Linked DNA regions of Homo sapiens. The protein of the gene in region 1 purifies or fractionates together with the protein of each later gene. This does not show direct contact. Each region holds a gene or a part of one and is shown in the gene's direction. Other genes may lie near its edges.

Region 1 (3,652 bases):
TGAACTTATGTTTTCAGTTCTCTTGGATACATGTATATACACACACCGAGAAGTGGAATTGCTGGGTCACATGGTAACTATGTTTAGCCTTTTGAGAAACTGCCAGTTTTTCCAAAGTGGTTGTATCACTTTACAGTTCCACCAGTAATGTATGAGGGTTCCAGTTTTCTCACGTCGTACACTAACACTTTGAGACCAGCCTGACCAACATGGAGAAACCCCGTCTCTACTAAAAATACAAAATTAGCCGGGCATGGTGGTGCATGCCTGTAATCCCAGCTACTCGGGAGGCTGAGGCAGGAGAATCGCTTGAACTCGGGAGGCAGAGGTTGTGGTGAGCCAAGATCACAGCATTGCACTCCAGCCTGGGCAACAAGAGCGAAACTCCATCTCAAAAACAAACAAACAAACAAACAAAACTATTTTGTTTGAAAAGTTTATTTTAGTCATTTTAGTGTGTGTGAAGTTGTACTTCATTGTGGTTTTGATTTGCATGTACTTGATTATATTGAGCATCTTTTCATGTGTTTATTGTCCATTTATAAGTTTCTTTTGGAGAAATGTCTGTTCAGATACTTGGCCCACTTTTTAATTGGGTTATTTGTATTTTTGTTGTTGAATCGTAAGAGTATTTTACATCTTCTTGAGTCAAGGTTCTTATCAGCTATATGATTTGGAAATGTTTTCTGTTCTCTGGGTTGTCTTTGCATTTTCTTGATGGAAGCATGGAGGTTTTAAACTTTAATGGAGTCCAATTTATCAGTTTTTTTCTTTTGTTTACGCTTTTGGTGTCATATCTAAGAAACCATCACCTAATTCAAGATTATGAATATTCATTCCTGTGGTTTTCTCCCAAAAGTGTTATAGTTTTAGCTCTTACTTTTATGTCCATGAACCATTTTGAGTTAATTTTTGTACATTTAGTATATGGTGTAAAGTAGAAGTCCAACTTCATTTTTCTGTATGTAGATATTCAGTTGTCCAAGCACCATTTGTTGAAAAGATTATTCTTCCCTATTAAATTATGTTGGCACTTCTAAAAGAAGGATTCCAAAAGTAGATTAAGAAGCAGTTTTAAAAGAGGATTCCAAAGATGTTACTTACTGTTCCAGTAACTCATGTCCTCCAGAGGTGATTTTTGAAGAGTGCGTATTTTTGGCAGTTACTTTCCATGGCAGTTCAGTTACTTCATGTTCATTAATTTCCCTGACTACTGGTTGTCATTTTAATTGTTTAATTGTAGTAATAATTTAATTGTTTGTTATTTTGAAGGAAGGGGAAGGGAGGTTCAATGATAAGAAAAGCATTCTTCCTTTTTAATTTAAATAATTAGAACATACAATTTGTACTGAAATGATGTAAAAAGGCTCTTATTATTGAATCATTGGTTTTGCTTATCCTTTTGTTTGAAGTATAACTTGTCATATCCTTTATAGCCACTTAAAAAAGGAGAGAAAGAAAAGAAAAAAAGCAATTTGGAACTCTTCAAAGAAGAATTAAAGCAGTAAGTTTTATAGTGTGGAGAATAACTATCATAGGTGTATTGAGCTGATACATAAACAGATGCAAGTATAAAGAATATACTGTACCAGTTAGTTATTACTAACCAGTTTGCTATGAGATTGTTTTAGATATTATAATATTTGGTGGGCTATCTTTGAAAATAAATTAGCATTTAGTCCAGCACCTGGGTTGCTTGCATTACGAGGATTCAGTTCAATTGATTTACTTAATGTCCAGAGTCCTGTTTGCAGTGGAAACAGTATACTCACTGGGATGGGAGTGAGGGGCAGTTAGACTTAGCAAGAAACAAATTCAGTGGTTTTAGTGTTTAATTTCCTCCTCACCTTTAAAGTAGGCTTTGTGTTCCATTGGTAGTATGATATATCAGAAATTTGCTCGTGGTTGTATTATAGCTGAGGGACCCTCTAATCTTGGTTATCAGTACCAGTATTTAATTACAGATATTTCTAGTTATTTGATGATAGTAATTTGATAAGCGCTATTCTGAAATGTGAATGAACAAATTTTGGCTCATTATAAGTGATTGTAAATATTTTCAACAGAATTCAAGAGGAACGTGATGAGAGACATAAAACAAAAGGCAGATTAAGTCGATTTGAACCTCCTCAGTCAGATTCTGATGGTCAGCGTCGTTCTAGTAAGTGGCATTTATTTTAATGTGTATGCTTGTGATTAATTACAGTAGTTCCCACCTTATCCGTGGCGGGTTACATTCCAAGGATCACCAGTGGATGTCTGAAACCATGGATATATACTATCCTTTTCCTTACACATTCATAGCTGTGGTAAAAATTAATTTGTAAATTAGGCACAGTAAGAGATTAACAACAATAAGTAATAGAACAATTATAACAATATACTGAAATAAAAGTTATGTGCAATCCCAACACTTTGGGAGGCCGAGGCAAGTGGATTACCTAAGGTCAGGAGTTCGAGACCAGCCTGGCCAACATGATGAAACCCTGTCTGTACTAAAAATACAAAATTAGCCGGGCGTGGTGGTGCGTGCCTGTAATCCCAGCTACTCAGGAGGCTGAGGCAGAAGGATTGCTTGAACCTGAGAGGCAGAGGTTGCAGTGAGCCGAGAACGTGCCATTGCACTCCAGCCTGGGCGACAGAGCAAGAGTCTGTCTCAAAAAACAACAACAACAACAACAGAGTTGTGTGAAGTGGTCTCTCTTTTTGTCTCTCAGAAATACCTTACTGTAACAAACTGGGGGAAACAAAGGTGAGGGTAAGGGGGGACTACTGTATTATAAAAACTAATAATTGTCTTCTTTTCTCCCCTTTAAGTGGACGCGCCTTCAAGAAGAAATAGATCATCTGGTGGTAATACAGTTTTTTGCTCTTTTAATCGATAAATTTTCCAAACTTTATGTTTTGCAGGTTATAATTCTTTTTTTCTTTCTGCCCTAGTTCTTGATGATTACGCACCTGGCTCACATGATGTAGGAGATCCAAGCACTACTAATTTATACCTTGGAAACATTAATCCACAGGTAATATTAAGTAAGATGAATGTTGATTGATATGCTTTATGCTTTTGGAAGAAAGCTTTGTTAGTCAAAAAAAATCAAGATTCTGAAGCTGACAAATCTGATGGAATTGGATAGTCTTTAGAGTTGTCTTACTGGTATGGCCCAGGTTGTCTTGCCACATATTCTTGTTTCCTCTTTCAGTAACTAGATTGAACTCTGGATTTGAAATGTTTTACTAGGTGCTGATTTTATTATTAAATCAGGGTGTGACCATTGATGAATAATATTATTTTGAGACTGTCCACTTCTGATGCATACTTGTTTCCTTGTGGAGTCCCTTTTTCTTCTCATAGTAGTAAACTACTCTTTGTGGTTTGTCTTTTATATTTTAATTCTTTTCCTGCATTGGTGCTGTTAATTATGATATGGGGAATGTAGTAACGGTAGTATATAATATGCTATTATTAAAAATTATATTTTGCATATATACTGTTACCTGTTTTCTCTGCATTTGATTACATGGGTAGTTGATTGTTAGAACAGATGATTAGATACTTTTTTTCTTCATTGTCAATACATATTTCCTCTTTAATTTAAATGTACTAACCATGCCTGCTTGAAAAATGTTACTAAATGCCTAAACAAACCAT
Region 2 (3,652 bases), on another chromosome or scaffold:
CACACCTGTAATTCCAGCTACTCAGGAGGCTGAGGCAGGCGAATTGCTTGAACCTGGGAGGCAGAGGTTGCAGTGAGCCAAGATCACACCACTGCACTCCAGTCTGGGTGACAGAGTAAGACTCCGTCTCAAAAAAAAAAAAAAAGTTAATTAGAAAATATGGCTTAATTGTTGAGCCATAGTGAATCTTGAGTAATTAAAGCAAAAGTCCTCAAGTGGAAGCTATTCTAAAGGATATATTAGATATATGAAATGTTAGATGACTTCACATCTATTCAGTGCACTGAATTAGTAATTTAGTTTCTAATGGGCCGGTGAATATTTCCTGTAAAACTAAGACTGTATCTTTAAGGATTTTTCCCCCTTTCTTATAAGACCGCATCTTAAAGGACTTTTTTCCCTTCCGTTGTAGAGACCTTGTACACAGACAGACGGCTAGTGCAGTGGTACAGCACATGTCACTTGGGGTTTATGGATTTGGTTGTGAAGATTCGCTGAATCACTTGTTGAACTATGTATGGCCCAATGTATTTGAGACATCTCCTCATGTAATTCAGGCAGTTATGGGAGCCCTAGAGGGCCTGAGAGTTGCTATTGGACCATGTAGAATGTTGCAATATTGTTTACAGGTAAGTTAAAGATTTTTTTTTTAATCGGTGATTTTTTTTTTTTAAATAATACTTTAAGTTCTGGGATACTTGTGCTGAACGTGCAGGTTTGTTACATAGGTATATATGTGCCATGGTGGTTTGCTGCACCTATCAACCTGTCATCTAGGTTTTAAGCCCTGCATGCATTAGGTATTTGTCCTAATGCTCTCCCTCCCCTTTCCCCCCACTGCCTGTAAGTTAAAGATTTTTAAAAGATTACTTAGCAAGAAAAGTAGTGTATTGAATTAAGTTACTTTTCCTGATTATCATTAGGGTATATTGTGCCATATGGTAGAACAATTGTGTGGTGACAGGGGAGTGAGTTTTGTCTCTTCCATTGCAGCTTAAGAGCAGTGTAATTAGTAGGTTCCCCCCCCCCCAACTCCCCAAGGGAAATAATTTTGAATCATATCTTTATGTTTTCTTAATTTTGTTAAGGTTATGTATGTTCTTAAAAATTGAAATAATGTAACCGTTCAATTATTTTAGGGTCTGTTTCACCCAGCCCGGAAAGTCAGAGATGTATATTGGAAAATTTACAACTCCATCTACATTGGTTCCCAGGACGCTCTCATAGCACATTACCCAAGAATCTACAACGATGATAAGAACACCTATATTCGTTATGAACTTGACTATATCTTATAATTTTATTGTTTATTTTGTGTTTAATGCACAGCTACTTCACACCTTAAACTTGCTTTGATTTGGTGATGTAAACTTTTAAACATTGCAGATCAGTGTAGAACTGGTCATAGAGGAAGAGCTAGAAATCCAGTAGCATGATTTTTAAATAACCTGTCTTTGTTTTTGATGTTAAACAGTAAATGCCAGTAGTGACCAAGAACACAGTGATTATATACACTATACTGGAGGGATTTCATTTTTAATTCATCTTTATGAAGATTTAGAACTCATTCCTTGTGTTTAAAGGGAATGTTTAATTGAGAAATAAACATTTGTGTACAAAATGCTAATTTGTGTGTGTTTTTTGAACATGACTTGTAAAATGCGGAACTTTGATAAAGTATTGGTTTATGTGGAATAAGTGGCTTAATTTCATTTTCTGTCACATGGTTTATAGAAAGTAGTTAGCTGAATAAAAACTATATAAAGTGATGGCATCTTTGTCAAAATTCCATTGTTGTGTTAATAATGACAGCAAGAAGAGTAGCCTCAGGGGATGTTCCCCTCAAACTAGCACAACCATTCCATCATCGTAGAAAAGTAGCACTTTTGCTAAACTGTCTTGAATATTTTGTACTTACATAGCGCCTTTCATCTCTTGATTTCTCAAAATGCTTTATGAACACATTTAAAGAAAGTGGTTTAAGTCTTGTCCAACACTTGACAGGTCTGCTGTGTTTAGCAAGTGAGGAATTTAACTTTACTTCAAAACTGCTTTCTGCCTATTAGGAGTGAGGATACCTAAGTAATGCTGATAGAACAGGACAATGTTGGGCTTTTCTCCATGTTATAAGCCACTACTCAGCAATGCATCAGTAAATACCTATTCACCCACTGTATGCCAGCCACTGTGCTTATATGCAGGGGATGCAAAGGTGCATGAGACCTGCCCTCTACCTTTAAGAACAGTATAATGGAGAAGGGGAGACAAACCTTGTGACAGATTCCTTATGTACTGTGATAATACACAGTGGCAGCAGCTAAAATGTCTAGGTTTGCTTAGCTTTGTATTCAGTAATAATAAGTTGATCTAAGAGTTCAGCATAAACTGAATGAAATGCCATTTAATGGTAGAGGAACCAAGCATTAAGGCAGTACTACACTTAATTTTTTAAGCAAATATGTAAAGTATATTTTCAAACTTTTCTAATGTTATGGCCCCAAATTTCTTAGTTTTGGCCTTTTTACTACCTATACTATTTTTACTGTTTTGTTTTGTCTCCATGTGGTAGTACTTCTGTGAACTCTAAAGGGAAAAAAAATTCTGCAAGCAGCATTAGTATATAACTACTACTGTAAGTAAAACTGCCTATTGACACTTTAGGAGTTCCTGCTTCAGAAGCTTAGTTAAGAAACAGCTTGTGGCCGGGTGTGGTGGCTCATGCCTGTAATCCCAGCACTTTGGGAGGCTGAGGCGGGCGGATCACGAGGTCAGGAGATCGAGACCATCCTGGCTAACGCGGTGAAGTCCCGTCTACTAAAAATACAAAAATTAGCCAGGCGTGGTGGCGGGCGCCTGTAGTCCCAGCTACTAGGGAGGCTGAGGCAGGAGAATGGCTTGAACCCGGGAGGCGGAGCTTGCAGTGAGCCGAGATAGCGCTGCTACACTCCAGCCTGGGCGACAGAGACTCCGTCTCAAAAAAAAAAAAAAAATTGACTTTCAACAAATTGATAGTGAGCATTAAGGGTTTCCAAGTTGGATTTGTAACTCCTCATCATTCCTTGTATGACAACTTTCTGAATATATGTCACTATGTAGTAAAATTAAACACTCCAAACTCATCTTTCTGTTGTTAGAAGTTTTCAGCGGTACTTCCATGCAACTTTAAATCTCACTGCTCTCTATGGTTGATGTCAAATGACCTTCAGTAATGACTGAGAATTGAATACAAATAGATTACAAAGCCAAAATTTGATGTTAAATGACTCAGGAAATTTTAGTTGTATTTTCAATTCAAGTACTTAGTAGCCTACGTTTGCTTGGCCTCTGGTTCTTTATGGAAAATAGGCTTTGTAGTGGCATTGTGGAGCAAAGGAGACTGTTACACCTTAATTAACTTTTTTTACTGATGCAAATAATTTGAGGATAGAGAGGAGGGAAGTAGTGAAAGCTATGACCTAAAACATTGGGACCAAATAGAGGCTCACAGATATTTGGATTATTTTATGTGCTTATTATTAAATAAGGAAAGCATTTTGTGATATGTGGAAGACGCTATGTGAAGTTTTACCTATCTTCTCAAAGACCTTTTCTTTTGTATTTTCTTTTGGTGTTTCTTAAAGCCAAACAAAGAAATGTTCTTAAGGAGACAGGG
Region 3 (3,652 bases), on another chromosome or scaffold:
GGGTTTTGGTAAATTCAGCTAACCTTTTGGAGCCTGTAATATATGTTGACATGCTCCCAATCGACATGGACTTTTTACGTATGGGTGCGTTTCCCCGATCAAGCTGCAGAATGTCTTCCCCACGTCTCTTCCTGGTGAATCCACTGCGTTTTCATTCATTTTAAGTCCCATGAGTGGCCCGCCACTTGCTGGTGCTTAGTGTGTGTCAGGCGCTGTCCTAAGTGCCCTCCATGCACGGCAGTTCTACGACACAGGGATTGGCGCTGTCCTAAGTGCCCTCCATGGACGGCAGTTCTACGACACAGGGATTGGCGCTGTCCTAAGTGCCCTCCATGCACGGCAGTTCTACGACACAGGGATTGGCGCTGTCCTAAGTGCCCTCCATGGACGGCAGTTCTACGACACAGGGATTGGCGCTGTCCTAAGTGCCCTCCATGGACGGCAGTTCTACGACACAGGGATTGGCGCTGTCCTAAGTGCCCTCCATGGACGGCAGTTCTACGACACAGGGATTGGCGCTGTCCTAAGTGCCCTCCATGCACGGCAGTTCTACGACACAGGGATTGGCAGGTTACAACTGAGAGTCCAACGCTGGCCCACTGCCTGTTTTTTGTTTTTTTGTTGTGTTTTTTGAGACGGAGTCTTGCTGTGTTGCCCAGGCTGGAGTGCAGTGGTGTGATCTCGGCTCACTGCAACCTCCGCCTCCCAGGTTCAAGCGATTCTCCTGCCTCAGCCTCCCGAGTAGCTGGGATTACAGGCATGTGCCACCACACCTGCTAATTTTTTGTGTTTTTAGTAGAGATGGGGTTTCACCATGTTGGCCAGGCTGGTCTCAAACTCCTGACTTTGTGACCTGCCTTGGCCTCCCAAAGTGTTGGGATTATAGGCGTGAGCCACTGCTCCCGGCCACTGCCTGTTTTTGTAAGTAAAGATGGATGGCGGTGCAGCTGGCCTCACTGTGCAGCGCCTCCTTCCTGGGTAGGGACGTGTGGTGGGCCTTGGGGAATAGGAACCGTGGGTTATGGATCTAAGGTTGCTTCTCTTACCAGGCTGAGGAGCTTGACTCTTCTGAAGGTGATGGGGTGCTCTGGCAGGGGCTGAGCTGAGGGCAACCCAGTGATAGTGGCTGCCGAGCTCCTCTCAGGCGCCCCCTGCACCAAGATGGCCTGGTCACCATGGGAGGGGACATTGCTCCATCTTACAGATGAGGAAAGAGCTTCGGGACAATGGGGATCCCTGCTGGGTCTTCCCCACACAGCCTCTGCTCCAGGTGTGATGCTTTGTAGATGCAGCCGCTGCAGAGGTATGGGGCCCTGTTTCCCCGCCCAACTCTTGGAACATCCCTGCCAAGCAGGGCTTGTCCTCAGTGATGAGTGGAGGAACTCAAGACTCCGAGAAGATTCCTTTGAAGTTGTTGTCATGTAACAGCGGCTGACCCCACTGACAGTGCTCACAGTGTGTGTCTGGGCTGGGTGGGTCCTGTTGTGGGCATTGAGTCTGGCAGATGCCCGGGCCATGGGGACTGCCGTGCCTGTTCTCACGTCCTCGATTGAATCAGCACTTGGCCTGAGCTGTTCTCACACACGTGGCTCACACGATGGGCACCAGGGTTCTTCCCATTCTACAGATGAAGACACTGAGGCCCTTGGAGGCTCATATGGTACAAACAAGACTTGAACCCAAGGAGCCATGAACCCAGGGAGCCCAACTCTTGTATCCTTGGCTCTGTGTTGCTCAAGTGAGACGGGCAGAGCCAGGGCTCGCGGCTGAGCTTCCAGTGTGACCCATTCTTCCTTGGACCCAGGCAGAGCCTGCAGCCTGCCATGCTGCCTGTGGGGAGTCACAGCTGAGTGTGGGCTCTGGAGGCTGCCTTTTTCCTGCCTGTGTGTCTTTGCTCTGTGCCTCAGTTTTTGCCTTCTGTGCTGTATGTATAGCATTGCAGTAGGAGGTTGAAAGTCTTACAGGATGCCTGGCCCATGGGGTGAGTGCCCGGTGTGTGTTCCTGCTCCCGGGCTGCTGCTACTTGTCCCTGTAGCATAGGAGCTGGGTCTCCTGGGGTCTGTGTGGCCCCAGTCTGGTGGTTGGAGCTGGCTGGGTTGGTGCTTCCAGTTCTGTGGGGGCAGCGTCATCATGGGCTGGAAGGGCTTGAGTGAGTAGGTGGGAGAGGGTGTGTGGGGGCATCTCCCCTCCTTCCATGGGCACAGCGGCTCATGCTTCTGAGGCTCTTTCCCATTTCCTGTCTTACCTATTCCTTCCCAGCATCAGGATGGAGGTGGGATGGGGCCACTCACACTTGGTGTGGAGGCTGCAGAGGAAGGGGAGGCCATATGGCCTAGGTTTTGAACTTGGGAGTCAGGCTGGTTGGTTACCGGGGCCTGGCATAGCTGATATCTGACAGGACGGCGTCAAGTTACATTGGCAGAGCCTGTGGGGTCTCAGGTTGAATCATCCCACCAGCAGGCACTTGTCTGTGAGTCCAGAGTTCAGTGGATAGGGCAGGATCGAGGGCCAGTAAATTCAGCTGATAAGCCCCCACTCTGGTATGTCAGCCCTCGAAGACACTGGATCCTGCATCCCACAGTCAGCCCACAGTTCCCAGTGAGATCAGAGCAGCTAATGCTGCGGATGCTGTTCTGAGACTTCCCGGGCAGCCGCGGCTGCTCATCGTGTCGTGCCACCCCTGTGAGGGCAGTTGCACCCCTGCAGTGGCACCTGCAGTTCTGACAGGGCGTGAAGGGAAGGGACTGAGCTTTTTTTTTTTTTTCCTTTGAGATGGAGTCTCACTCTGTTGCTCAGGCTGGAGTGCAGTGGAGTGATCTCGGCTCACTGCAACCTCCGCCTCCTGGGTTCACGCCATTCTTCTGCCTCAGCCTCCTGAGTAGCTGGGACTACAGGTGCACGCTACCACAGCCCGCTAATTTTTGTGTTTTTAGAGAGACGGGGTTTCACCATGTTGGACAGGATGGTCTTATCTCTTGACCTTGTGATCTGCCCGCCTTGGCCTCCCAAAGTGCTGAGATTACAGGCGTGAGCCCCCGCGCCCGGCCGGGACTGAGCTTTAATGGGAGCCTTGCCTGGGTGGCTGTCAGAGAAGGGGTGGGGTGTGTTGTGACTCACCAGTAGGTCCCGAGCCCAGGTGACCTGCCAGCATTCCACAGCAGCAGGTAGCAGATGTGGGTGTGAACTTTGTGCCTTTGGAGCGTTCTGGAGGATGTTCTAGTTTGAGGTTCCCCTGAGGCTGGGCAGATTTGGGAGACATGGTGCGTTCTCCCCGAGGAGCCTCTGTGTGCCACTGCCCAGGACCCTCACTGGTCAGATAAGGCTGGGGTGGGGTGGGCACGTGGCGACCCCTCCCTCGTCAGATCAGGCAGGAAGTGTTCTCTTTGGCAATTGAGGAGCTCGCCGTAGACTGTCCAGGTTTTGGGAGATAACCTGGTACTGGAATTGAAGTCCTCCTCTTCTCTACCCATAGGGGTTGTGTCCACTGTGGTCCCCGACTCTGCCCACAAGCTGTTCATCGGGGGCTTACCCAACTACCTGAACGATGACCAGGTAACTTCCCTGCCTCCCTCCAGACCCGTCCCCCCACCCCGCCCCACCTCATCCCAGCCCTGATGGACTCTCGGCTACTGCAGGTCAAAGAGCTGCTGAC

What was found.
Region 2: the proteins of U2SURP (region 1) and SF3B1 purify together in Homo sapiens (affinity purification with mass spectrometry; 4 studies listed by BioGRID and IntAct, with this or other methods). This does not show direct contact.
Region 3: the proteins of U2SURP (region 1) and U2AF2 purify together in Homo sapiens (affinity purification with mass spectrometry; 4 studies listed by BioGRID and IntAct, with this or other methods). This does not show direct contact.

The regions. Positions count from the first base shown.
Region 1 is NC_000003.12:143,018,533-143,022,184, forward strand, and holds part of U2SURP (U2 snRNP-associated SURP motif-containing protein), read left to right. Parts: intron 1-1,436; coding exon 1,437-1,504; intron 1,505-2,066; coding exon 2,067-2,161; intron 2,162-2,817; coding exon 2,818-2,853; intron 2,854-2,940; coding exon 2,941-3,023; intron 3,024-3,652.
Region 2 is NC_000002.12:197,389,949-197,393,600, reverse strand, and holds part of SF3B1 (splicing factor 3B subunit 1), read left to right. Parts: intron 1-412; coding exon 413-629; intron 630-1,139; coding exon 1,140-1,298; 3' UTR 1,299-3,652. UniProt on the Homo sapiens protein: Component of the 17S U2 SnRNP complex of the spliceosome, a large ribonucleoprotein complex that removes introns from transcribed pre-mRNAs.
Region 3 is NC_000019.10:55,665,035-55,668,686, forward strand, and holds part of U2AF2 (splicing factor U2AF 65 kDa subunit), read left to right. Parts: intron 1-3,472; coding exon 3,473-3,552; intron 3,553-3,635; coding exon 3,636-3,652. UniProt on the Homo sapiens protein: Plays a role in pre-mRNA splicing and 3'-end processing. By recruiting PRPF19 and the PRP19C/Prp19 complex/NTC/Nineteen complex to the RNA polymerase II C-terminal domain (CTD), and thereby pre-mRNA, may couple transcription to splicing.